Regions from separate parts of the Homo sapiens genome. Here region 2 is linked to region 1. The links come from fine-mapping of genetic effects on gene expression. A gene starts in region 1. The other region holds a variant in brackets. All regions are shown on one strand. Distances are between the middles of the regions.

What was found.
Region 2: its variant is fine-mapped to the expression of SMCR8 in whole blood (TOPMed, PIP above 0.99).

Annotation. Positions count from the first base shown.
Region 1 is chr17:18,313,948-18,316,808 of GRCh38, reverse strand. It overlaps SMCR8 (SMCR8-C9orf72 complex subunit), which reads right to left and starts at 1,516. Exons shown (of 2, transcript NM_144775.3): 1 at 1-1,516. The coding sequence starts at 1,019. It overlaps TOP3A (DNA topoisomerase III alpha), which reads left to right and starts at 1,815. Exons shown (of 19, transcript NM_004618.5): 1 at 1,815-2,210. The coding sequence starts at 2,031. RefSeq lists enhancers at 1,456-1,505, 1,195-1,718, 1,846-2,195, 2,206-2,295, 2,243-2,766 and a silencer at 1,646-1,695.
Region 2 is chr17:18,242,481-18,245,381 of GRCh38, reverse strand. It overlaps LLGL1 (LLGL scribble cell polarity complex component 1), which reads right to left. Exons shown (of 23, transcript NM_004140.4): 21 at 2,754-2,874; 22 at 2,560-2,639; 23 at 507-1,474. The coding sequence ends at 2,561. FLII (FLII actin remodeling protein) reads left to right here. Exons shown (of 30, transcript NM_002018.4): 29 at 1-28; 30 at 110-567. The coding sequence ends at 244. Among named protein-coding and RNA genes, the nearest start is that of FLII, 15 kb to the left of the region's middle. The variant C/T (reference allele first, on the strand shown) is at 1,320.

The sequences.
Region 1 (2,861 bases):
TGGCTGAGCTGAGCCAGGGTCTGGGTGAAATATTCAGTGTCACAGAGCTCCTCCAAGGTCTTCAACTTCTTGTCAAAACACTTGGTGGACTTTGCTTTGATAAGTTTTGGGGTGTAGGCTGGTCTGCAGGTGTAAAGGTCTGTGTCGGCAGACTCATCAGGGTTAGAGGTAGTGGATGCCTGGCTGGCCTGATCCTGGATGTGCTCCATCTCACCAGGACACAAATCATGCCCCTTCAACTTCCGATGAGGGTATGAGCGGATCTGCTTCAGCAGGTCTTGATGTTCAATGATGGACTTCTCCACACTGGCCAGTTCATTGGCTTTCTCAATTGCCTGAGATGAGTAAAAGCCTTTGTCGTTGGCTTTCTTCTGGATCTCCGTTTCTGTGTGTAGCACTGTCCTGGTGTAATCCAAGTCTTTCAGCTTTTTTTCAAGTTCCCCAGCAAATGCCTTCCTGTTGCCAGTCTTCAAGCACTCAGAAGCTCTGGAAAATTCGGCTGAAAGCTCCTGGAACTGCTGCATGATTTTATGCTGGTCTGCAGAGATATAAGCCATGCAAAACGGCCTCACGAAGCCACGGGCCTCCAGGTCGTATAGGGTAAGGTGGTGCACGTATGCAAAGGCGCCCTCCTTAGAATCTCCCAGCACCACCTTGGAGTCCTCCACGAAGTTCAGCTTGGGGTAGGCAGATCCAGGAGGATGGCCCACGAAGGAAGCCTGGTAATCCACAGACATGATACGCAGGGAGAAGTAATTGAGATCAAAAGTGCCAAAAACTTTGGTGTCATTGGGGATGGTCAGTAAGGGTTGGGGTCCCACCTGCTCAGAGAACTCGGAAATAAGAATGAAGTCCCTCGAAAACTTGGCCCCGGACAGTTTTGACCAGGGGTTAGCACCCTGACTGGCGAAGGGGAAGAGCGGCACCGAGTACTCCTCAGGCAGGGCCGGCTCATTGTAAGGCTCTTCTTCATACTCTTCCTCTTTGGTGAAGGCCACTACGTCAGGGGCGCTGATCATATTTCCAGATATATGAAGAAAACATTGAGAGGAAGTGGGAAAGAATGCGGTGTTAATCGACGCGCAGAAGGCAGGCCTCCGGAGAAGGAAGTGAAGCCCTTACGGCCTTCTTTGCGACTCCCCGAACCCGGGGTCCTAGGCTGCTTCTCACACACCCGAGGAGAAGAACTCTAGCAGCCCCCTCACAGTTGTAGCTCCTCCGGAGCTCTCTGAGGCCTCATGAACGCCAAGGCCGCAGGCCCAACTGCCCTTCTCTTCTTCGTCCGGCGAGCGCGGCCAGCACAAGAAACCTGCTGCGAAATCACCTGCACTCTCCGGAACCCACTGCGACAGCAAAAGCCCCCGCTCTGAACAAGGCTTAACGCGAGGCTACGGGACGCCGCAGGGGTCAGCCAAGCGCTGCTGCCCCTCACTGCCCGAGGGCAGAAACCGTCGCGGCTCCTAGGACGCCACAACCCGGATCCTGCTACCGCGGCGCCGCCATCTTGACATCACATGACTCCTGGTGTCCGCGCCGCGTGACCCGGAAGCGTCCTCGTAGACTTCCGAGCAGGAGATTAAAAAGTCATGAGAAAGAGGCCTTGGATGGGAGTGTCTGGCGGCTCCCCGCAAGAAGGAGTCCGATTAACCAACCACTGCCGGGAAGGAGGGGAAAGAGGGGCGGAGTGAGACGGGGGCGGCGGGAAGGTGGCAGAGGGGAACGTGCTTGGACGAGGGGCGCGGGACAGTCTGGGAGTTGTAGTTCCAGGTCGCTGTGGGGCGCGCGCCTGGCGGAAGTAGCTGGAGAAGGCGGGCGGAAGTTCCACGCCAAGATACTGGATTCGGTGCTGAGGCGGCGGCTGCGGCACGGGAAAGGCTCAGTGACTGAAGCTCCAAAGGCCAGCAGGCTGGTGGGGACGTGACCGAAGCGAGGCTCTGGTTCCCTTTCGGTGGGCGCCATTTGAGCCTCATCTCTGGCTTCCCCAGGATGCGCCGGCAGCCGGGGAGCGGCTCCGGGCGCGAGGTCTGAGGATGATCTTTCCTGTCGCCCGCTACGCGCTCCGGTGGCTGCGACGGCCCGAAGACCGTGCCTTTTCCCGCGCCGCCATGGAGATGGCCCTCCGAGGCGTGCGGAAAGTCCTCTGTGTGGCCGAAAAAAACGACGCGGCCAAGGGGATCGCCGACCTGCTGTCAAACGGTCGCATGAGGCGGGTAAGAAAGCGCGTTCCGATCAGCTGCGTGCCTTAAGGGAGGCCCACCGAGCGGGACAGCGTGGTGGGCGCCAAGAATCGAGATGAAGGCGATTATCTCCCATTTCTCAGGCCTCACTGCCCCTCGTCTGGATTATTGCAGTGGCCTCCTGTCTGCTCTCGGACTGGAGTGCATTTTAAAACGTAGTTGATACATCTCACTCATTTGCGTGGAAACCTTTTGTTTTGCTTGCGCTTAGCAGGTTCCCAAACTTGTCTGATTCTCGGAATCGCCTCGGGCGCTGGCTGCCCTTCGGGTCTTGTGTGAGGCTGGGGAAGTGTGTATTTTACTGTTTTTCCCTAGAGATTCAGAAATTCATTTGGGAACTACTGACCAGATTCCCTTAACTTGGCATTCAAGCCCTGCCCGATCGTTCCCCAGCCAACCTAGCCCTCCCCATCCTGTGCCACAGCCACTGCATTCTACAGCCCTTGTGACTTTCCAGCCTCACAGTGCACACTTACAGCAACACGGTAAGGTTTGGGGATTAGATTTGAAGTCAGCCCTGTTCCTACCCGAATGAACTGATTCTGAGAGAGGTAAGTGGTAAGAATGTGTTCTACACACACGGGAGGCACAAACGCAAGGGAGGATAAGAAAAAGTTTCATAAA
Region 2 (2,901 bases), 71 kb after region 1:
GATCAAGCTGAGCCTGAAGGCCTGCCAGGTAATCTGGGTGGAGGGAGGGCCGAGGTGGGCCTGTGGGCAGGGCAGGGTCATCACCCAAGGCTCGCTGTCCCCTTGCCAGGTATATATCCAGCACATGCGGTCCAAGGAACATGAGCGGCCGCGCCGGCTGCGCCTGGTCCGCAAGGGCAATGAGCAGCACGCCTTTACCCGCTGCTTCCACGCCTGGAGCGCCTTCTGCAAGGCCCTGGCCTAAGACAGGCTGGCACAGCCCCAGGCTTGGTGAGGAAGAGGAAGGGGCCTCATCCACTGTCTGCTAGCAAAGAATGTACTCAGGTGACACCACCTGCTCCAGCCACGTCCAGTGCCACAGTCCCCAGTAGCCTCAAGCAGCACCAATGGGGATGACCCTGACAGGTGCCCTCAGGGGTCTGGGAAATCCAACTCTCTCCACAGTGTGAGTGCACGTGTGAAGCCCCCTCACTCTTCCGCTAGGGATAAAGCAGATGTGGATGCCCTTTAAGAGATATTAAATGCTTTTATTTTCAATATTAAAAATCAGTATTTTTAATATTAAAATGGCGCTAATTTTAACAAAACGACAGAAAAAAACCCCAAGGTACAATCTACAGGGAAACTCATCTTGACCCCCCCCCCTGCCCCCCCCCCCCGCCGGACACACACACCTGACTAGGCCCCAGATGTGGGTGCCCAGCAGAGCTCCCAGTCACATCCATGCCCGCACACACACACTCATGACAGGCTGGGGACTGGCCCAGAAGCAGGTACCAAAATAGTTTAGTTTTAGAAACAACTGTCCAGCCCAGGCGCTAGAAAAATACTCTTTGCAGGGCTGGGCATGGTGGCTCACGCCTGTAATCCCAGCACTTTGGGAGGCTGAGGTGGGTGGATCACGAGGTCAGGAGATCGAGACCATCCTGGCTAACATGGTGAAACCCCATCTCTACTAAAAATACAGAAAAAATTAGCTGGGCGTGGTGGTGGGCGCCTGTAGTCCCAGCTACTTGGGAGGCTGAGGCAGAAGAATGGCGGGAACCCAGAAGGCGGGGCTTGCAGTGAGCAGAGATGGGGCCACTGCACTCCAGCCTGGGCGACAGAGCAAGACTCCGTCTTTAAGAAAAAAAAAAAAAAGGAAAAATACTCTGCAAAGTGAGGGGGAAGGATGGTGTGTGGAGGGGGGGAGGTGGCACAGGTGCTGGGCCCCACCTGTCCTCTTCCCTAGGCAGTGGGCCCCCAGGGCAGCCAAATGCCTGCAGGAGGGCTCAGTTCTGGCCCAGGTCCCAGGCCCACACCCTGGGGCTGGTGCTGCT[C/T]CAGGGCCCAGGGTCAGGCGGGACAGGACAGCAGGTCCCAGTGGAGCCTACAGGTTAGCAGGCGTGGTTCTATGTTAAGGGGCCAGGCAGGTGCCAGGGATCCAGCACTCCAGCTCCGAGCAGGGCAGGTGGAGGTCGGGATAGTTCTGGCCTTCCTGGAAGAGGGAGAGAAGAGGTATCAGCAGAAGGTGAGGGAGGGCAAAAGGGCAGATGGATTGCCACAGCGGCCAGACCACACAGGTGCTGCCACTGTCTCCTCTGCAGGGCAGGCATGGCCCTTCAGTGACCACCTGAGATGGGCTTGCTGAGTCTCCAGATGGGTATCCAAGCGCCAGGCCACATATGCCCCACTGAGGCCAGGGAGAGGCACCAGACAAAGAGCTGGGAGGTGTCCATGTCCTGTGCAGGGTGAGGCTATGGCCTACAGTCAGGTGCCTGGGAACATGAGGCAGCAAATGCGCTGGGCAGATCTATGGGCCCCACATCTAGGTGAGGATCCACAGACTCAGGCAGGGGTAAGTCAGCCACTTGCTGGGCCCAACCGATGAGACCTGACCTCGTGCACCTCAGTGATCTCATCTATGAAACAGGCTGGCCAAACCAGCTCCCAAGCCCCAAACTACTGCCACCTCTAAGTGGTTTAATCTGGTCTTGTTGGCCGGGTGCGGTGGCTCACGCCTGTAATCCCAGGACTTAGGGAGGCCGAGGCGGGTGGATCATGAGGTCAGGAGATCGAGACCATCCTGGCTAACACAGTGAAACCCCGTCTCTACTAAAAACACAAAAAATTAGCTGGGTGTGGTGGCGGGCGCCTGTAGTCCCAGCTGCTCAGGAGGCTGAGGCAGGAGAATGGCATGAACCCAGGAGGCAGAGGTTGCAGTGAGCCAAGATCACGCCACTGCACTCCAGCCTGGGCGACAGAGCAAGACTCCGTCTCAAAAACAAAACAAAACAAAACAAAACAAAACAAATCTGGTCTTGTCCTAACCACCACCTGTCACATGCAAGGGCTGAGGGGCTGGCCCTGCTTTTCTAATACCCAACCATGACACTGGTGTCTGTGTGAGCACCAGAAGTCCCCAATTGAGGCACTCCATGGAAGGCAGCCAGGTTTCAGAGAGTGCCATCACATGGGCCTGCCAGGGTCTCAGGTAGAAGACCAGGGCCAAATGGTACCCAGACGGGCTGAAGGGGGTGGACGTCACCAGTGGTGAGGACCAGGGCCCCACCCCTGCAGCACCTCATTTGATCAGGATGGCACAGGCGTGGGCCTCGTCTTCTGCCAGGTTCCTCAGGTTCTTCTCTGACTCCTCAGAGGAGCTGCGAGATGGGGATGGTGCTCAGGGGTGGGGGCGGGGGAGCCCCTGGCAGCCCTGGGGACGGAGGCCTAGGGGACAGGGCAGCCCCCCCTGTGGACCTGCCCACCAGCCTCACCCCAGGAAATCCTTCACATCTTCCACTGTGACGTCCCCTGTCGTGTCCAGCGTGGTGTCAGCACTGGTGGCTGAGTCGATGGACATGGGTGAGAGTGCAGCCTCGGGTGGCTCCGGGGTGTCTACAGGGAGCAAGTCATCAGCCCCTA